3 linked regions of the Homo sapiens genome follow. The protein of the gene in region 1 interacts with the protein of each later gene in a biochemical or structural test. Each region holds a gene or a part of one and is shown in the gene's direction. Other genes may lie near its edges.

The links.
Region 2: the proteins of CTBP1 (region 1) and RBBP8 form a complex in vitro, tested with the Homo sapiens proteins (3 studies listed by BioGRID and IntAct).
Region 3: the proteins of CTBP1 (region 1) and BCL3 form a complex in vitro, tested with the Homo sapiens proteins (one study listed by BioGRID).

Annotation. Positions count from the first base shown.
Region 1 is NC_000004.12:1,211,129-1,218,150, reverse strand, and holds the end of CTBP1 (C-terminal-binding protein 1), read left to right. Parts: exon of another isoform or gene 1-1,945; coding exon 1,946-2,160; exon of another isoform or gene 2,161-2,192; intron 2,193-2,460; exon of another isoform or gene 2,461-2,605; intron 2,606-3,677; coding exon 3,678-3,808; intron 3,809-4,545; coding exon 4,546-4,673; intron 4,674-5,120; coding exon 5,121-5,238; intron 5,239-5,380; exon of another isoform or gene 5,381-5,476; intron 5,477-5,611; exon of another isoform or gene 5,612-5,724; coding exon of another isoform or gene 5,725-5,727; coding exon 5,728-5,911; 3' UTR 5,912-6,706; downstream 6,707-7,022. UniProt on the Homo sapiens protein: Corepressor targeting diverse transcription regulators such as GLIS2 or BCL6. Has dehydrogenase activity. Involved in controlling the equilibrium between tubular and stacked structures in the Golgi complex.
Region 2 is NC_000018.10:22,992,306-22,999,327, forward strand, and holds part of RBBP8 (DNA endonuclease RBBP8), read left to right. Parts: intron 1-442; coding exon 443-1,334; intron 1,335-1,415; coding exon 1,416-1,542; intron 1,543-4,068; coding exon 4,069-4,157; intron 4,158-5,314; coding exon 5,315-5,429; intron 5,430-7,022. UniProt on the Homo sapiens protein: Endonuclease that cooperates with the MRE11-RAD50-NBN (MRN) complex in DNA-end resection, the first step of double-strand break (DSB) repair through the homologous recombination (HR) pathway.
Region 3 is NC_000019.10:44,751,686-44,758,707, forward strand, and holds part of BCL3 (B-cell lymphoma 3 protein), read left to right. Parts: intron 1-4,546; coding exon 4,547-4,655; intron 4,656-5,331; coding exon 5,332-5,536; intron 5,537-5,641; coding exon 5,642-5,730; intron 5,731-5,960; coding exon 5,961-6,038; intron 6,039-6,560; coding exon 6,561-6,728; coding exon of another isoform or gene 6,729-6,860; exon of another isoform or gene 6,861-7,022. UniProt on the Homo sapiens protein: Contributes to the regulation of transcriptional activation of NF-kappa-B target genes. In the cytoplasm, inhibits the nuclear translocation of the NF-kappa-B p50 subunit.

The DNA of each region.
Region 1 (7,022 bases):
TACAGGCGTCAGCCACCAAGGCCTGTTCTTTAAAATTTATTTTTTAAATTCTTTTCTCTCTGCTTCTGTTTGGATGCCATCTGCTGACTTTGAGCCCCTCCCTTCAAGCTCCCGATCCTTTTCTTGCAGTTAGCTTTGTCCAGGGAGTTCCGTTTCAGAGGGATGTTTTCGTTCTGGAATTTCTATGTGGTTCTTTATAGAGTTACCATTCATCTTCCGGAAGCCTCCATTTTTCTGCTGTTTACATCCACACTTGTTGTCATCTCTGAGCATGTTTATAGTAGTTATTAAGAGGTTTTGCTGGCTGATTCCAGCCTCGGTCATCTGTGCGTCTGTCCGCTTCCAGTGTTTTGTTCTAATTAGAAACTACATCCTCCTGTCTCTTCACCTGCATCATCATAATTTCTTATCCTAAGCCAGACATCATGTGGAAGAGAATGGCAGAGACAGAAGTGAAGAATGGTCTCGCCCCGAACAGCCGCTGCTCTCCCGTGTCAGGCGTGGCCGGCGCCGGCCCGCGGCTTTAGCTGGTTTTCGCCACCGGCAGCCCGACTTCCGGGGCTTTGTGTTGTGCGCAGTGGGAAACAGCGTGTCGTCCGCCTTCTGCGCTGTGGGAGACGCCTTTCTCTGTGTCTGCCTGTGTTCTCTTCCTCCCCATTTGGTGGGATCCCTGGCAGGGGGCGTTGACAGACGGGCTGTTCTGCACCTGGGGAGCTGCCCGGGTACTCCGGCCGTGGCTGCAACCCTCAGAACTGCTGCTCCCACCTCCGCCTGCCGAGCCCTCCTCCCTCCTGCAGCAGCCTCGTCCCTGGGGATGGAAGGAGCCACCATGTTCCTTCTCGTAGAACAGGCGCCTCCCTTTCTAGGATGTAGTGCGTTTAGACGGTCCTCAGCTCTTCTGACTGGCCTCCCAGCCTCCCCCAGTCCTCTTCCCAGAGTGACTGGGGGTCCCCTGGGCGTTTGGGCCACGTCCGGCCACCCTGTGTGCCTGGCGGTCTGGTCTCCTTGGCCCTCAGGCCGCCGCGGGCCCCTCGCACGTGTTGTTCCAGCTCTCTGGCTCCCTTCCTGTCCCCTTATGTCTCCAGCAAGCTTGGTCTTCTCAGGGAGGCCTGCCCTGGCTGCCGCCTTTGAAACTGCGCCCACTTCCCACCCGCCCCGGCGCTCAACCTGCTTCCTTCCTGTGTAGCGGTTCCCTCTGAGGCAATGCAGGAGACACCACGTTCGCGGGCTTGGGGTCCTGTGTCCTTTGCAGCCATGCTGTTGGCTCACAGTGGGCACGAGCACTCTGCAGACCCTTCCCCGAGGAGGAGCCGGCCCCAGCCAGACACGGTGGCTCAAGCTCCACGGCTCCTGTGCTGGGACCCGTGCCAGCCTTGGACTGCTGGGGTGGGGGCAGGCACGTCTGCCTGGGATGGCTTTCTCTGCCGCTCCACTCGAAGGGGTCAGGACCTGAGCCCAGCGGGGCCTCCCTGGTCTGGAAGTTTCCCTCCTGCCCCCTTTGCCGTCTCCACGTAGTGGTGGCTGGAATTGAGATGCCGGAAACATTGATGGGTGGATCGAAAGGCCAGCGGAGGGGCCTGGGCACGGAGGACATGTGTTGGGTGGGTGGAGACCCACTGACCAGTCCGTTTGACACTGAGTGGTTCATGTCACGTCCTGTGGACAGGCTGCAGGGGAGTGGTGTGGCTGGCAGCTGGTGTGGGCCGAGGGGCTAGTGTACCCTTTCCACCCCTGTGCATCTCCTCCGCCTTGGCAGTGGGCGCGTTGGAGCGGACGTGGAGCGCTCGTGTGGAGCGTGCGTGGGCACCTTGGCTTGACCACAGCTGGTGTCATCCTTGGCAGATGGTCAAACTGAGGCACAGAGGCCACTCCGACCCTGGCTTTCGGGGCCGGCCTCCCGGCCACGGGTGAGCAAGGGTCTCACACTGTGTCTTGACGCCACCAGGTCGCGTGGGGCAGGCAGTGGCGCTGCGGGCCAAGGCCTTCGGCTTCAACGTGCTCTTCTACGACCCTTACTTGTCGGATGGCGTGGAGCGGGCGCTGGGGCTGCAGCGTGTCAGCACCCTGCAGGACCTGCTCTTCCACAGCGACTGCGTGACCCTGCACTGCGGCCTCAACGAGCACAACCACCACCTCATCAACGACTTCACCGTCAAGCAGGTGCGTGGAGCCGGGGACACAGGACTCTACTTCTGCGGGGCAGGTACAGGTGGGGGTGTCAGGCAGGTCCCTCCCAGCAGCCATCTGCACCTGGGCAAGACCCTGCCTTCAGCGAGCCACATGGCGGCGGCTGCCAGCCCTGCTGGGGGAAGCCCTGTCTGCCCAGACAGCGTTTTCTGTGTTCTGAGTTCTACTCAGGACATCTAAAATACTCTCTGGACAAGACAGAACCTCATACCTTTGAACACCAAATTCCCCTGAAGCCCTTGCTGTTGTCACAGTGGGGACAGATGCAGCTACCTGGGGGCGTTGGGTCGGCCCTTGTGACTTCCGTGCTGCCAGGTTCAGGTTTCACATCTGCAGCTGGAACGGGCTGTGCTCAGGTCGGCCTCTGACATCTGCAGCTGGAAAGGGCTGTGCTCAGGTCGGCCTCTGACATCTGCAGCTGGAACGGGCTGTGCTCAGGTCGGCCTCTGCCTCAGCACAGCTCGCAGTGCAGCCTCAGCCCTGCGTTCCCCTTGAGTGGGTGGAGCTGGGGATGGCTGCCTCCCGCTGGCTCCAGGCCCTTCAGGGAGTCATCGTGTGTGCACAGTGATGTGTATGTGTGTGGGCAAGTGTGCGTGGGTGCATGTGTCTGCATGTTTGTATGAGCTTGTATGTATGTGCATGTGTGTACACACGTGTCAGAGGCCACCCGCCCACTCTAGCTGCCCCAGCAGCCTGTAGCCACAAGGAGGATGAGGCCAGGTTCCCGCTGCCCCTTCCTTTGTTCACAGAGTCAGTGGGTTTGGAGCCTTCTAGGGGACAGGGTGTGGCACGTGGATGCTGGTCAGAGCCCTGCCGTCCCTGAGGACCTTGGGTGTGAGGCTTTAATGGGCAGCAGTGCACCAAAGAAAAGCCACCGTGACCTGCCCAGCTGTCAGCCAAGCACCGTGGCTGGGTGGACTTCTTGGAATGAAATGGGGGGGCTGCAGGAAAGCCCTGGCCACGAAGCCGAGGGAGAGCCACCCGCAGGGCTTTTTGCAAAAGTGCATGAAAAGCGAGCCTGTTCCGAAGACGGAGGCTCTGCTGCAGGCCCCGCTGGGGTTGGAGTCAAAGACCACGCCTCAGAACAGACGGCCCTGGGCTTTGCCGTCCCAGGGAGTCCCACCTCGTGGGCTGAGGCCCTGCGTGGGGGAGGCTGGGCTGGAGGGGACCCAGAAAAGGGGTACCACAGGGGGACCAAGCCAGGAGCCCCCGCCCAGTCCTCAGCTCAGGGCTTGGGCAGGAGGGTGGAGCTCTCTAGGAGCTGTGGGGCCGTGCAGGTCCATACAGGGCAGATCCTCAGCCAGCCTGTCAGGGCCGCGGTGCAGCACGCCCGAGGCCTTCAGTCCTAGCGCCGTGGTGAGCCCAGGGTGGGGCTGGGAAGGGGCTAGGGAGCTGGGCCTTCCCAACGGCGTGCGTGACCACCTTGCTTCCCTGGCTGCCCGCCCTGTGCGGATCCCTGACTGGGCCTGGCCTGTCCTTATGTCTTCTAGATGAGACAAGGGGCCTTCCTGGTGAACACAGCCCGGGGTGGCCTGGTGGATGAGAAGGCGCTGGCCCAGGCCCTGAAGGAGGGCCGGATCCGCGGCGCGGCCCTGGATGTGCACGAGTCGGAACCCTTCAGGTGCCCCCACGGCCAGTGCCGCCCCCCTGCTCTTCCCTGTCCACCATCCTGCCGGCCTTGACCTCCAGACGGCGCCTCTGCCAGGCCGGACACTTGCCTGTACTCAGGCCTCTCGCTGGCCAGCAGTGGGGGAGTTTGCCGCCCGCTGCGGGGTGAGGATGGAGCCACGGGCTCTAGGCCTGCCTTGCCTCGGTCCTGTGAGGGGCTGCTCAACCTCCTCAGCCCTTCTTTGGGCAGGGCTCCTGACCAACCAGGAGAGAGTGAGGCCCCAGTGTCTGTGAGTGGTCCCCATGGGCCCTGGCCATGGAGTCATGGCATCCCGTCCAGACCTGCAGCCCCTACAGCACCTTGGGACCCCAGGCAGCCCTGGGTTGGATGTTCAGCCGCAAGAGGAGACACCCCCACAGGGGCAGTATCAGCCTGCAGCTCCTGGGGCTACAGACCCTTTGGCTGGAAGGGGCCAGGCAGCATGTCCCCCCATCAGGGCTCCTCCCACGAGGGACTTGGAGATTAAATCCCTTGGGCTCCCACACCCGCCGCTGTCAGGAGCCCCTGGTGTGTCTGATGGTCCCGGGGCTGTGCTCTTGAGCTCAGCCAGCCTGCCGAGCAGAGCAGGGCCGTGGGGTCTGTGGTTCCCAGGCAGGGCCCCCCACAGGGGGTTCCAGTGCCCAGCCACCTCCCCTCCGTACCCAGCCACAGCACTCAGGCTGCACTGACCATGCCTGTGCTGTTCCCAGCTTTAGCCAGGGCCCTCTGAAGGATGCACCCAACCTCATCTGCACCCCCCATGCTGCATGGTACAGCGAGCAGGCATCCATCGAGATGCGAGAGGAGGCGGCACGGGAGATCCGCAGAGCCATCACAGGTGGGCGTGGGGGCCGCTCGGTCAGGCCTGGGGGTCCCTTCCTGCCAGCCCCAGATGCTCATGGGCTCGCATCCGCCTGGCAGCCAGGCCCATGTTCTGCCAGCTCAGGGCCCGTGGTGCTCTCACTGCACCCCCAGCAGGGACCTCTAAGGCCAAAGTCAAGTTGAGCCCTGGCGTCGTGTCTTACACACAGGACCTGCTGGGAAGTTGCTGGGCTGAGCAGACAGGTCCCTCAGCAAGCTGGGCACGTGCTCTGGGCTGGGGGTCCCCACGCTGCAAGGGTGCCAGTGCCCAGAGAGACAGGACCCTGCCGTGCCTTGGGAGCCCCGGGGCTGAGAGGGAGGAGCACACTGCCAAGAATCCTGCTGCCCGTGTCTTCAACCCAGTGGGCCACGCTCCTGGGGCCCCCTCAGAGCCACAGCTGTTCCTTCCTCCTGCATCTCCCAGGCCGGATCCCAGACAGCCTGAAGAACTGTGTCAACAAGGACCATCTGACAGCCGCCACCCACTGGGCCAGCATGGACCCCGCCGTCGTGCACCCTGAGCTCAATGGGGCTGCCTATAGGTGAGCAGGCCCGCTGGCCCAGAACAGCCTCCAGGAGGGCCCCAGGCTTCCCCTGGATCCCAGCACAGCCCCTGGTGGGAGGGGCGGCGTCTCCACTGACTGACCTGGAGGATCTGGGTAGAATTGGTAAGGCCAACCTCACCTGAAAGGCCCATGAGAACCAGGGCCTCTTGGAAGGAGCCTGGGCTGGGGTGGCCTTCAGGGCTCAGTGGACACAGGAGTGCCATGGGCACGGGGCCTGTGGGAGGAGGGGGCTTTGGGTGAGGCGAAGACCTCATGTTCAAGTCACCTGGAGACACCAGGGCTCCCCTCCCCAGCCCTGAGAAGTAGCTGCCATAGGCAGGAACATCCGTGTAAAGGCCGGGATCCTTACCCTGACTGCTGGTCCTCCTGGAGAGGCCCCCTCGGTGCTGCCGATGCTAGGAGGGCAGGTGGGGCCTGGCCAGGCCGCCTACAGGTGGGCCTCACGGATGGACCCTCTCCCAGCAGGTACCCTCCGGGCGTGGTGGGCGTGGCCCCCACTGGCATCCCAGCTGCTGTGGAAGGTATCGTCCCCAGCGCCATGTCCCTGTCCCACGGCCTGCCCCCTGTGGCCCACCCGCCCCACGCCCCTTCTCCTGGCCAAACCGTCAAGCCCGAGGCGGATAGAGACCACGCCAGTGACCAGTTGTAGCCCGGGAGGAGCTCTCCAGCCTCGGCGCCTGGGCAGAGGGCCCGGAAACCCTCGGACCAGAGTGTGTGGAGGAGGCATCTGTGTGGTGGCCCTGGCACTGCAGAGACTGGTCCGGGCTGTCAGGAGGCGGGAGGGGGCAGCGCTGGGCCTCGTGTCGCTTGTCGTCGTCCGTCCTGTGGGCGCTCTGCCCTGTGTCCTTCGCGTTCCTCGTTAAGCAGAAGAAGTCAGTAGTTATTCTCCCATGAACGTTCTTGTCTGTGTACAGTTTTTAGAACATTACAAAGGATCTGTTTGCTTAGCTGTCAACAAAAAGAAAACCTGAAGGAGCATTTGGAAGTCAATTTGAGGTTTTTTTTTTTGTTTTTTTTTTTTTTGTATGTTGGAACGTGCCCCAGAATGAGGCAGTTGGCAAACTTCTCAGGACAATGAATCCTTCCCGTTTTTCTTTTTATGCCACACAGTGCATTGTTTTTTCTACCTGCTTGTCTTATTTTTAGAATAATTTAGAAAAACAAAACAAAGGCTGTTTTTCCTAATTTTGGCATGAACCCCCCCTTGTTCCAAATGAAGACGGCATCACGAAGCAGCTCCAAAAGGAAAAGCTTGGGCGGTGCCCAGCGTGCCCGCTGCCCATCGACGTCTGTCCTGGGGACGTGGAGGGTGGCAGCGTCCCCGCCTGCACCAGTGCCGTCCTGCTGATGTGGTAGGCTAGCAATATTTTGGTTAAAATCATGTTTGTGACTGTAACCATTTGTATGAATTATTTTAAAGAAATAAAAATCCTGGAAAGAGCCAGCGTGCCCAGCATCTATTCTGGTGACTTTCTCTCATGAGGACACGGGTGAGCCTCAGTCCTGGCTCTGGTGACCTCCACGGCTCAGCTCAGCCTCTCTGAAGTGGGCGGCCTAAGAGAGACCCAGAGACAGTGCAGTGGCAGGTTGGGCAGTGGTCTCTGTGTGTACCGGGCCTGTCCCTCTGCCCACTGGGTCTGTGGGACGCTGTAGGGTCCTGGCTTGGAGGCGGCCTGCCCGCAGTGCCCCAGTGGGAGGGAAGCAGTGTGCCAGCCGGGCCGTTGTGTGGATGATGGTGTGACTGGCTGAGGTCCTGCCCC
Region 2 (7,022 bases), on another chromosome or scaffold:
GTGCCTTAGCCACCAGAGTAGCTGGGATTACTGGCGTGTGCCACCACACCCGGCTAATTTTTGTATTTTTAGTAGAGATGGGGTTTCACCATGTTAGCCAGGCTGGCCTCGAACTTCTGGCCTCAAGTGATCTGCCCACCTTGGCCTCCCAAAGTGCTGGGATTACAGGCATGAGCCACTGCGCCTGGCAAAAGATGATTTTTTGTATAATAAAGTTATTTAAAGTACTTAGGAAAAATTTTTAAAATATGAATATTATGGTGTTGAGAAATACTTCCTATGTCATTTTCCTCTGCTTTTCCCCTTCTCTTTTGTCATCTAAATGAAGAGAAGCCAAAAGCTGTACCTTGTCTTAAATTTTGGTTAATCATTTGCTTCTAAGAGGTAGATAAGACCTTACTATTAATTCTGTATTAAAGAATTGTTATCACTCTTTATTTAGATTTTCAGATTCTACTTCAAAGACTCCTCCTCAAGAAGAATTACCTACTCGAGTGTCATCTCCTGTATTTGGAGCTACCTCTAGTATCAAAAGTGGTTTAGATTTGAATACAAGTTTGTCCCCTTCTCTTTTACAGCCTGGGAAAAAAAAACATCTGAAAACACTCCCTTTTAGCAACACTTGTATATCTAGATTAGAAAAAACTAGATCAAAATCTGAAGATAGTGCCCTTTTCACACATCACAGTCTTGGGTCTGAAGTGAACAAGATCATTATCCAGTCATCTAATAAACAGATACTTATAAATAAAAATATAAGTGAATCCCTAGGTGAACAGAATAGGACTGAGTACGGTAAAGATTCTAACACTGATAAACATTTGGAGCCCCTGAAATCATTGGGAGGCCGAACATCCAAAAGGAAGAAAACTGAGGAAGAAAGTGAACATGAAGTAAGCTGCCCCCAAGCTTCTTTTGATAAAGAAAATGCTTTCCCTTTTCCAATGGATAATCAGTTTTCCATGAATGGAGACTGTGTGATGGATAAACCTCTGGATCTGTCTGATCGATTTTCAGCTATTCAGCGTCAAGAGAAAAGCCAAGGAAGTGAGACTTCTAAAAACAAATTTAGGCAAGTGACTCTTTATGAGGCTTTGAAGACCATTCCAAAGGGCTTTTCCTCAAGCCGTAAGGCCTCAGATGGCAACTGCACGTTGCCCAAAGATTCCCCAGGGGAGCCCTGTTCACAGGAATGCATCATCCTTCAGCCCTTGAATAAATGCTCTCCAGACAATAAACCATCATTACAAATAAAAGAAGAAAATGCTGTCTTTAAAATTCCTCTACGTCCACGTGAAAGTTTGGAGACTGAGAATGTTTTAGATGACATAAAGGTTTGTGTTAAATGTTCAAGGATTTTGATTAAAATGATTGCTTGTGATTTCATTTAGAGCTAACAATTATTTCTGTTTTAGAGTGCTGGTTCTCATGAGCCAATAAAAATACAAACCAGGTCAGACCATGGAGGATGTGAACTTGCATCAGTTCTTCAGTTAAATCCATGTAGAACTGGTAAAATAAAGTCTCTACAAAACAACCAAGGTGTGTACACCATAAACAGGATCTCCACTTTTTTAATGACTTCAGATTGAATGTCATTATTTACTTTTTTAAATAGATTGAATTGTTTTGGAAAAAAACTTATTTCTTCCTTCAGGTGTCTGTATTTATAGGACGATTCTCACATTTTACCGGTGATTTTTCTGTTCTTTTTTTTTTTTTTTTTTTTTTTTGAGACGGAGTCTCGCTCTGTCGCCCAGGCTGGAGTGCAGTGGCGCGATCTCGGCTCACTGCAAGCTCCGCCTCCCGGGTTCACACCATTCTCCTGCCTCAGCCTCCCGAGTAGCTGGGACTATAGGCGCCCACCATGCCCGGCTAATTTTTTTTTTTTGTATTTTTAGTAGAGACGGGGTTTCACCACATTAGCCAGGATGGTCTAGATCTCCTGACATCGTGATCCACCAGCGTCGGCCTCCCAAAGTGCTGGGATTACAGGCGTGAGTCACTGCGCCCGGCCACTTATATACGTTTTTAAACTCCTTTAAAAACATTGTTGGCCCGGTACGGTGGCTCACACCTGTAATCCCAGCACTTTGGGAGGCCGACGCTGGTGGATCACGATGTCAGGAGATCGAGACCATCCTGGCTAACGTGGTGAAACCCCATCTCTACTAAAAACACAAAAAATAAGCCAGGCATGGTGGCAGGCGCCTGTAGTCCCAGCTATTCGGGAGGCTGAGGCAGGAGAATGGTGTGAACCCGGGAGGTGGAGCTTGCAGTGAGCCGAGATCGTGCCACTGCACTGCACTCCAGCCTGGGTGACAGAGCAAGACTCCGTCTCAAAAAAAAAAAAGAAAAAAAAAATTGTTTGCCTTAAGATATATAGGCATCTTTTCATAATTTTGCTATATTTTATTATTATTATTATTATTATTTGAGACAGGGTCCTACTCTGTCACCCAGACTGGAGTGCAGTGGCATGATCACGGCTCACTTGCAGCCTTGACCTCCCAGGCTCAGGTGGATCCTCCCATCTCAGCCCCCTGGATAGCTGGGACTACAAGCATGCACCACCACACCCAGCTGATTTTTTTATTTTTTGAAGTGACTGGGTTTCGCCTTGTTGCCCAGGTTGGTCTCGAACTACTGGACTCAAGCCATCTGCCTGCCTTGGCCTCCCAAAGTGCTGGGATTACAGGTGTGAACCACCCACGCCCAGCCTGCTATCTTTAAAAAAGTAATTTTTTTTTTCAGCCACCAAACATTTCTGTAGTTCAAGTGCAGTATTTTTTCTTGTATTCTTCATTGGCAAGTTATTCCTTTATTCTGGGTTTATTTTCCCTTTTTCCTGAAGCACAGTCATTAGTTGTTTTTCCAGTGAGTGTTTTAGTCTCTATATGAAAACATTTTTTTCACTATCATTCATGATTTTTTTTGAGCTTTTTGTTTTTATTTTTTTCATGGTTGCTCTAGGGATTACAGTATCTACCTACTTAGCCTTTTACAATCTACTTGGAGTTAATGTACTATTTCATGTTCTGTAACTACACTTTATGTAGTTCCTGTGTATTTTATCTACATATATTGAAAACCCCATCAATGTTATAGTTTTTAATTTTAAAAAATTTTAATTGAAATATAAATCACATACCATAAAAATCACCCATTAAAATGTTCAATTCAGTGGTTTGGTATACCCACAGAGTTGTACAACCATCACTGTAGTCTAGGTTTACAACATTTTCATCACTTTCCTTCCCCATATACCCTCTGCAGTCCTAGGCACCTTAAATCTACTTTCTCTCTTTGTAGATTTGCCTATTCTGGGAGTTTTCATATAAATGGAATCGTTTAATATATGATCTTTTGTTACTTCTTTCACTTGGCATAATGTTTTCAGTTATCTGTGTTACAGCATATATCAATATTTTATTTCTTTTTATTGGATAATTTTTTATTGCATAAGTATACCATATTTTAGGTATTTATTAGCTGACATTCAAGTTGTCACTTTTTTGCTATTATGAACAATGCTGCTATGAACATTTGTATACAGGTTTTTGTGTGGATGTATGTTTTCATTTTTCTTGGATTATACCTAGGAGTGGAATTGTTGGGCCATATGCCAATTCTACATTTTACCTTTTGAAAGACTGCCTGTTTTCCAAAGCAGCTACACCATTTCACATTCCCACCAGCAGTATGTGAGGGTCCCAGTATCTCCACCTCCTCACTAGCACTTGTTATAGCTTTTTGATTTTTGCCATCTCGTGGTTTTGGTTTGCATTTCCTTGACTGCTGATGATGTTGAGCATCCTTTCATGTTTATTGGCAATTTGTATATCTTCTTTGGAGAACTGTCTATTTAGATCCTTTGCCCATCTTTAATTGGGATATTTGTCTTTTTATTATGGAGCTGTGAGAGTTCTTTATATATCTTAGATATAAGTCCTTTACCAGACATATGATTTGCAAAAATTTTCTATTCTTTAGGTCCCATAATATTTTAAAGTGATGAGAATTTTTGAAATCAGTTTTTTAATTGCATGCTCTTTCCCTTTACCTAAGATGTATCCTTTGAAAATATCCAGTGGAGTATAGATCCGGGAGCAGACCTTTCTCAGTATAAAATGGATGTTACTGTAATAGATACAAAGGTAAGTTAAAAAGTAAAACCAAAACTCATTTGACTTTTATTCCAATGAGTTGTTAGTCAACCTCCTCTCGTGACTCACTGTATCACCTTAAGATAATCAGATACGTCTTAAAACCTACATGTATTTATGCAGAAAATTAAGAAATAAAAATGCTTATTCTTCTAACTTTATGGTATTTTTTAAAGGGTAATACTTTCTGACTTTAAAGGCCTTTACTGAAAAATATTAATATAGTTTTTAAAAGAATGCAGTGGGCAGGCGCAGTGGCTCATGCCTGTAATCCCAACACTCTGGGAGGTCGAAGAGAGAGAATCACTTGAAGCCAGGAATTCGAGACCAGCCTGGGCAATATAGCAAGGCCCTGTCTCTATAGGAAATTTTAAAGTTAGCTGGGCATGGCAGTGCATACCTGTAGTCCTAGCTACTTGGGAGGCTGAGGTTGGGAGGATACCTTGAACCCAGGAATTCGAGGCTGCAGTGAGGTATGATCACACCACTGCACATCCAGCCTAGGCAACCAGAGCAAGACCCTGTCTCATAAATTAAAATAATGCAAAATGCTGCATATCTTATATAATTTTATCATTCATTAAAATAATTCATCATGTCTTCATTACCTTTAAAATAATGTACCATAAAATTCATTTTCCAAGTTGACTATTTTTAAAAGTTAAAATTCATAGTGGAAATAGTTTTTTGTCTTGTATTTAGCTTCTGTGTAGTTTCAGAAGTTCTCTTTCACTTGGTAGCATATTAATAACAAAGTATTTAACATACGCTGAGTAATATATGCCTATCAAGAAATTTAATTTAATTTTTGAAAGTGTTCTTAGTGTACATTGATGTTCATTACTATAAGGCAAATTGGAAAATAAAGGCAGGAAAAGTTCAGGGGTGTTTAGTGGTAAATAATTCTCCCTTTCCTTGGCAGCAGTCCTTCTTTTCCTAGGCTTGATTATATTGAAGCTAAAATGTTTTATAAGCAGTAAAACCTAAATCCTTACCTGTTCGTAAAGTATAAAAGCAAATATAGCTTAATGCTTAAAAGTTGTAAAATGTATGTTATGTATATTTTACCAAAATGTTTTGTAAAAATTAAATATAAGACCATAAAGGAATAATTGTTAAAATTTTTGATTTTTAAAATATTTATTTAGGATGGCAGTCAGTCAAAATTAGGAGGAGAGACAGTGGACATGGACTGTACATTGGTTAGTGAAACCGTTCTCTTAAAAATGAAGAAGCAAGAGCAGAAGGGAGAAAAAAGTTCAAGTAAGATCTGTTTTTGTTTTGTTATTTTTTTTAATAACGTTGTGTGAAGTTTGTAGTTGTACCATTGCACTGATTAGCTCAAGTGACCTCTTCACCATAAAGCAGGTTTTTTCCTGCTCTGTTAACTTTATGTTCCTCTTAGGAAAGCTCAGTTTCAGTGCGTCAGAAAAAAAGTCTTTAACCAAACTAATTTCATTTCAGAAAAGATTCATATGGCTTCCAGGGATTTGCAAATGACAGCCAGCTACCAGTTTTGTAAATAAAGTTCTACCAGAGCACAGCCTTATTCATTTCTTTATGTATTGCCCATCGCTGTTTGTTCCATACAGCTGCAGAGTTGAGTAGTTGATGCAGAGACCTTATAGCCCCACAAGCCTAAAATAGTTATTTTCTGACCCTTTAAGAAAAAGTTTGCTGATCCCTGGTGTAGACAATTTTTTATAAGTGGTATAACAGTAAGTCTTGAGTCCTGTGTTAGAATTAACGTTTTCTAAAGAAATTTGATAAGGAAAGAAAGGAGAAATCTACCGAGAAGTCTTAGTATAGTTTTACAGGTTAACATTCAGAATGATAGTGTATATGCTGAGTTAATCTGCTGTATTCCACCTCTACTGATAAGGCAATTTGGCCAAATTAGTGGTCTACAGCCCTTTGTAGTGAGAAACTATTAATTCTTTACCCAAAGTCTTGATTTTCCGGAAGAGATGAGAACAATAGGAGGATTTTGGTTAGCAGTACCTTAGCAACATTCCTAACTGTAGAGGCACATGACATGAGAACAGCTAGACTATGAACAGTTGTCATTTATCATCCTTATGTATTGAAGAGCGAGGGCCTGCCACATGGGGAAGCAGTGCTAAAAGCAGAGACATTCCCCAGTGATCATTTGTTAGAAGCCGAATACATTGAGGCTGGGTGTGCATTCCTTATCTTCTGCTGAATTTTCTATAGTCTACCTGCTCAGAGCAAAAAATAAAATAGTCTTGCCCTGGCTTCTTTTGAATCTACTTATCTACTGCTGCCTTAAATGCAGTAAATCAAAGAAAACTTTAGTAGTCTTTGCCTTATTTGTTCTTCAATGACAAATAGCAAACCATATGATGAAGCAGATGGTTACCTGGGTAGAGAAGCCAATACCTATTAAAAGAAAAAACCTTCACAGTAGTTTATTGCCATTTTATGGCTTGTATGACACTAAATAACTCTTCTTAAGAGGATACTTTGCTTTTAAGATTATTTTGTTCCTGATACTAGCCTCTGATCATGTTTTTCTCATTTTTGTAGAAAAGAGAAAATCTAAAGTATGACCACTTTAAATCTATTCAGAAGACAATAGTTTCTCAAATTTATTTGATGCAAGTATCATGTGAAAGAGAAATTAGCACTTGGACTAATGAGGGGAAATTATAGAGATAATTTTGGCTAATAAAGTGCTATGGATAGTATTGCTACATAATGAATGAATCACTTGAATAACTCAGAGGATTCAAACAATACCATTTTCTTATCTTCATAGTTCCTGTGGCTCAGGAATTCAGGAAAGGCTTGGCTGGTCAGTTCTGTTTCAGGGTCTCATGCAGTTGTAGGCAGATG
Region 3 (7,022 bases), on another chromosome or scaffold:
CTGCCCCCCAAGTTCAAGTGAGTCTCATGCCACAGCCTCCCGAGTAGCTGAGACTACAGGTGCCCACTGCCAAGCCTGGCTAATTTTTGTATTTTTTGGTAGAGACAGGGTTTCACCATGTTGGCCAGGTTGGTCTCAAACTCCTGACCTCAAGTGATCCACTCGCCTTGGCCTCCCAAAGTGCTGGGATTACAGGCATGAGCCCCAAGCCCACCCCTAGAACACTATTTTTGGAACGGTGGTCTTTAGATATTTTGTCACAACCTAAAAACAAGAAAGACAGTTCATTGATTAACTTACTATATGAATTATACATGTAAAACTATCACTGGACCTGGCATAAATGTTGAGTAAGTGTTTGTTAATATTACTATTATTTTATCTCAAACCCAGCACACACACACACACACACACACACACACACAAACTTGAAATTAAAATTGCACAAAATGAAACAATACTCGCCCTTACTATGTGGGTTCTACTGTGACATTTTCTTTTTTTCTTTTTTTCTTTTTCTTTTTTTTTTTTCTGAGACAGGGTCTCGATCTGTCACCCAGGCTGGAGTGCAGTGGTGCAATCATAGCTCACTGCAGCCTTGATCTCTTGGGCTCAAATGATCCTCCCACCTCAGCCTCCTGAGTAGCTGGGACCACAGACGCTACCCCCACACCTGGCTAATTTTTGTATTTTTTTTTTGTAGAAACACAGCAGTCTTGCTATGTTGCCCAGACTGGTCTCAAACTCCTGGGCTTAAGTGATCCTCCCACCTCAGCCTCCCAAAGTGCTGAGATTACAGATGTGAGCCACCGAGCCCAGCTTACAGCTTTACTTTGCCATTTTCTATTCTAGTCGACTTCATTGTTTCATGGTCACAGCCCACTACATTAATTTGAAGATCCCCTAAATTGATTTCACAACCCCCATGGTTTATCACCTGCAGTCTGAAGAACATGTTTGTGAGGCTGCTGAGAAGTCCTGCACGGGAGGGTTTGGTCTGTGCCTAGCACATAGTAAGCACTCACTGCAATTGATCATCATGATTCTTATTATTCTATTGACCTGGGTTGGAATCTCAGCGTGGCCACGTTCTACTCCCTCTGTGCCTCAGTTTCCCTCTCTGTAAAAACAGGAACCATCGCGTGTGAGGGTCTCTGGGAGGAAGAAATGACATGATTTATACAAAGCACTTCTGTGAGAATTAGTTTGGGGCCTGGAAACCACAGGTAGAGATGAACAGGCCTGTTTCTGCAGAGAAGTAGCAGAGGGCTGCTCCGCCACTGGCCCACTGAGTGATTTCATGTCCCTGAGTCTCAGTTTCCCTATTTGGAAACTGGGTCTCATAATAGCACCTATCACAATTAGGATTCAGTGAGATCTTGTACACATGTATTAATACAGTGCACAGAACAGGGCTGGGCAAACAGTAAGTGCTCAATGCATGGAAATGGGTAATGTTTGAGCAGAGCTCCCAGGGTGGTTGCAGGCCATCTCCAGAGCCCTAGCAGGAGAAAGTGGCCTAGATTATAAAGAGCTAATAAAACCTAGTTCCCTCCCCTTCTGGGTACCTCTGGGGGGTCATCTATGAAATGGGCTTAATCAGACAGTCTCTGCCCCCAGTGGTGAGCTGTCCATGCTGTTGAAAAGCAGGGTGCTTGCCAGAGGCCACCCGGCCCACCAGTCTCCAGCCCCAGGCCCTCCCCACACCCTCCCTCTCCGACTCTCCCCCAAGGCAAACACTTCTGCCTCAGCTGCCTGCTGGGGGAAATCCCTTCCCGCAGAACTTGACCGCAACCCAGCTGCTCTGCCTCCCCCACGTCAGCACCCGTCACTCACTCGCAGCCTCCCCCCTCCTGGCGCTTCCTCCAACCTTAACCCCTTCCGCTGGGGCTGAGACTTTACCGGAACGGGCAGCGGCCCGGCCCCAGCCTGCGCCACCGGCTCCTCTTCACACCCGCGGGGGAGGGCAGTGGGGGCGAGGAGGGCGGGGGACGCTAAGTCTGGGTCCCCGCAGAAGCCAAAAGGTTGGGAGGCTGGGCTTCCATCTCCTCACAGGCGGGTACGAGCCTTGGGGCATTTGGACCCCCAAGAGGTTAGGGACTGGGCAGCCAGAAACCTGGGGAGGGGGCAGGAAGGCGGGGGCGGGGGGGGGGGGTGATGTTCTGATTCTCAGAAGGCAGAAGTTGGGGAACTGTATTCCTTAATCTCCGAGGGGATGAGGAGCAGCTTGGCAGCTTGGGGACCTGGCACTCAGAGGGGCTTTACGGGCAGGACCAGATACAGAAATTTGCAGAGTCCCTTGTTCAAAACTTAAGAATTTCACGACAGCGGCAGCAGGACGTTGGGCTGGTGAAACTGGTCACGCCAAGGGGCCTGAAAGTCTGTGTTCCCAAAGGGCCAGGGTTTGAGGCGCTGTATTTCTGGGTCTCTGAGGGGACAAGGACTGGCAAGGTAGTTTGGGATCCTGGAGCTCTGAAGGACGGGGGAAGTCCTTATTCTTAAAGAAGAGTTAGGGCTATTTCTGGCTCCCAAGAGATGTTGGGGGTGGATGCCGGGATAAGGAGGACTTGCAGCCAGCTGGAGCCTGAGCTCTGCGGGGTGGAGTTCCAGAGGGTCCCCCAGGCGGGAGGACTCGGGATTATGCGCCCCCCCTACACACACACACCTCAAGGGAGCTAGGTCTTCTTGGGCTGGGCACTCCCTTCCCCCGCCCCATTCGAGGATGGAAGTTGGGGTGCCAGGGGTGGCCAGGGTAGATCCCCGGCGGGACAGGCTTCCCTCCCCCGGGAGCAGGAAGCAGAGCCCCGCCCAGCAGACCTGTTACTGGAAGTCCGAGGGCTGGGTCGCCCCTCCCGTCCCCACTTCCTCCAGCCCCGCCCCACCCCCTGCGGCCCGCGCGTTTATGGGAACTCAGGCCTGGACGGTTTCTCTGAAATCATTCGCTGCGTCTGCCCTCACTTAACCCTGGCCGCCCCGAGAGGGACCCAGGCCAGGCGTCCTGGGAGATGCAGAGAAGGGGGGACCCTTCCCAGGGACCCCGGCCCCTCCCTCAACATTTTATTTTTAAATTTGGCTTTCACGGATTAGGAGTCAGGTTCAGCGATTCACCTGCGTGATCTCACCCTGGCATGTGGACGCTGTACTTTACATAAGAGAAAACTGAGGCTCCGAAAGGCCCCCATGGCTTTGCCCTAGCACGCGGCTACGCTAGGAGGGGTTGTGGCCCAATTTGCAACTCTGGCCCCGGGATTTCTGCACTCCATCAGAACCACCTGGGAGGCTAGTTTAAACTGGATTCTAGAGACACATTCCACAAGAGAAACGGGTGCTGGTGAGAAAGGAATTACTTAGTAAACTTTAAATAAAGATCCTGCCACCCACTGTGTACACGCAGTCCTCCTTGGGTCCTCCACTCTGTCCCCCACCCCATGCAAACAGCACAGGCGTGCACAAGCACGCACGCATGCACACACACCAGTCTCTGAATAGCTGTTCTAGGTTGGGGTCTCTGGAAACTGAGCAGGAAGTTTATTGGAAATGCTCTCCATCAACACCTGTGGGATGAAGGAAGCCCATCTGGGCAGAGGGAGAAGTTGAGCTGCTGTGTCGCCTCCACACGGCCTCAGCTGTCCCACAGGGAATATTGAAGCTGGAATGGCCTTCAGCATTGGGGTCAGGAGGCTAGGCCTTCTATGCTGGCATTAACCAGTGACTGGATGCCATTGAAGGGCAGCTGCCCTTGATTCACATGGGGCGTGACCTTGGACAAGCAGCTCTCTTGAGTTGAGGGTAATTCCCAAATGGTCTGAAAGCTGACAATCTTCCCAGAAGCTGAGGGAGTGAGTCCTTCAGTCTAGAAGGGGGTTCTGGACTGTACCGCCTCCAGAACAATGGCCCCATCCCAGTTTGTCCTCACCTCCCTTTTAGTCAAAACTTTTGTTCCAGACTGGGCGTGGTGGCTCACGCCTGTAATCCCAGCACTTTGGGAGGCTGAGGCTGAGGCAGGAGGATCACTTGAACCCAGCAGTTAGAGACCAGCCTGGCCAACATGGTGAAACCATGTCTCTACTAAAAATACAAAAGTTAGCTGGGCGCGATGGCACACATCTGTAATCCCAGCTACTCAGGAGGCTGAGGTTGGATGATCGCTTGAACCTGGGAGGCAGAGATTGCAGTGAGCACAAGATAGCACCACTGCACTCCAGCCTGGGCGATAGAACAACACTCCGTCTCAAACAAATAAAATAAAATAAAATAAAAGGGTCCCTCTGGCTGTTGTGTGGGGGACAGACAGTAGAGCATAGGTGGAAGCAGAGAAGCCATGAGGATGGAACTGTACTAGACCAGCAGGGAGCCAGTGGTGGCTAAAGCAGGATGGAGGGAGCGGGTGGTAAATCAGGATGGAGGGAGTGGGTGGGGAGAAGTGTTTGAATACTGGGGACATTTCCAAAGTATTCAACACATTGGAGTTAGCATTGCCAACAGCATGAGGGTGAGAGGTGAACAACCCCTAATGCCTGTGATTCCTTCACTCCCCCACCCCCAGGCCTCTCCATATTGCTGTGGTGCAGGGTAACCTGCCAGCTGTGCACCGGCTGGTCAACCTCTTCCAGCAGGGGGGCCGGGAGCTCGACATCTACAACAACCTACGGCAGGTGAGGCTCGGTCTGAGGGAGGAGGGCTGGGGCCTGGACTCCTGGGTCTGACAGAGGAGGGGCTGGGGGCCTGAACTCCTGGGTCTGAGGGAGGGGGGCTGGGGCCTGGACCCCTGGGTCTGAGGGAGGAGGGACTGGTGCCTGGACTCCTGGGTCTGATGGAGGAGGGCTGCGGGCCTGGGATCCGGGGTCTGATGGAGGAGGGCTGGGTCCTGGGCTCCTGAGTCTGAGGGAGGAGGGCTGGGGATCTGGACTCCTGGGTCTGAGGGAGGAGGGCTGGGGGTCTGGACTCCTGGGTCTGAGGGAGGAGGGCTGGGGTCTGGACTCTAAGTAGCGAGGTGCTCCAGGCTCCTGGTTCCTGGGGAAGAAGGGCTCTGGGGCCTCGGACTGGTTGTTCCTGAGAGGGAGGGGGCCTAAAGACCTCCTAGTGAGGAGGGAGGGGGCTGGGGACCCAGAATTCAGGTACTAGGGAAAGAGGAGGTTGGAGGCCCAGTCTTCTGGGTCCTGGGGAAGGAGGAGCATGGGGCCCGGACTCTTGAATCTGAGACAGGAGGTGTCTCAGGTTTCTGTTCCTGGGGAAGACTGCAGGATGAGGAATAAGGGTTCAGAAAACCTGGGGGAGGCAGGACTAGAGAGCAGGGCTGGACACAGGTCCCTCACAGTCACTGTTCCCCAGACACCGCTCCACCTGGCTGTGATCACCACATTACCGTCTGTGGTCCGGCTCCTGGTGACAGCTGGTGCCAGCCCCATGGCGCTGGACCGCCATGGCCAGACGGCCGCTCACCTGGCGTGCGAGCACCGCAGCCCGACCTGCCTGCGAGCCCTGCTGGACAGCGCAGCTCCGGGCACGTTGGACCTGGAGGCCCGCAATTATGACGGTAAGCATTTACCGCGGGGCACCGCTGGGCTGTCCAGCGGACCTGGAGTCCATCAGCGGCCGCAAAGCCCGGGCCTAGGTTTCACCGAGCCCTCCTCTCCCTCAGGGCTCACCGCCCTGCACGTGGCAGTGAACACCGAGTGCCAAGAAACCGTGCAGCTCTTGCTAGAGCGCGGTGCCGACATCGACGCAGTGGTGAGCGTGCACTAGGAGCTGGGAGGGAGCGGGGCCTTAGCAGGGGCGGGGTCTTGGCGGGGGCGGGGCCAGTGTGGGGCTGGCGTGGGAGAGCACCCGGGTGGGGTGGGGCTTGGAGTATCAGACCCAAGAGAGAGGCTGGACCCCGCGAATGGGATGTGGACGGGATGCGGGTCGCCGGCTGCTGGAGCAGAGCTTGGAGAAACTAAGACCTTCCCTCCCCGCCGCAGGACATTAAGAGCGGCCGCTCCCCGCTCATCCACGCCGTGGAAAACAACAGCCTTAGCATGGTGCAGCTGCTGCTGCAGGTGCGTACAGCCCCCCTGAGCCTCGCGCCCACCCTATCCTCTGACCCCAACCCGGCTCTGGCCTCAGCCCCTAGCTCTGACCCCGCCTTCCACTTCTGGCTCCGGCTCCTGCTCCGCGTCCAGCTCTGATCCTTTAAGGCCTAGTTTTCTCGACCCTCGGGCTCCACGCCCCTGGCTACGAACTTGTCCCATTCCTCCTCTGCCACCTCAACGGCCTAGGCCCCGCCCTGCGATGGCCTGGCTGACCCCGCCTTCCAGCTAGGCCCTGTCCACGCATTGTCCTTCCCCCCTCCAGCTCCCCCGACTCCTTGGGGCGCGGGCCTCGGTGTCCAGCTCCGGTTAATTCATCGCCGCCAACGCAGTCCCGCTTGGCCTGCCCTTGGCTCTCGCTCCTACCTTCCTGTGACCCCACCCCGATCCGGTGCCGCCCCACGTGCCGGCCACCCACCCGGGCCTCCAGCCTCTGTTCCCTTACCCCGGGTGGCCCGCGCGCCCTCCTGACCCGGCCCTCCCGTCCCGCAGCACGGCGCCAACGTGAACGCGCAAATGTACTCCGGCAGCTCCGCCCTGCACTCAGCGTCCGGCCGCGGGCTCCTCCCGCTGGTGCGCACGCTGGTCCGCAGCGGCGCTGACAGCAGCCTCAAGAACTGCCACAACGACACGCCGCTCATGGTGGCGCGCAGCCGCAGGGTGAGCCGGGGCAGCTGTGGACATGCCCCTTGCACACGTGTGTCCGCGGGCTGGTTGCAGGCGAGTGTGCCAGAGCGCAGAGGAGTGAGGGTGTCTGTGCCGTTGCGTGGAGGGGAGTGGGTGAGCCTCTGAAAGCGCGGGTGTGAGTTCCAGAAATGAGGAGAGACTGGCACCAAGAAAAAAAGTGCCTTGCCCATCTTTTCATACTGAGAAGTGGAGAGGCCACCACCTGGATCCAGTGAGCTAGGAGGGATGGGAGAGAGGACTGTGAGGCATGGGTGGCTCTATGGTCAC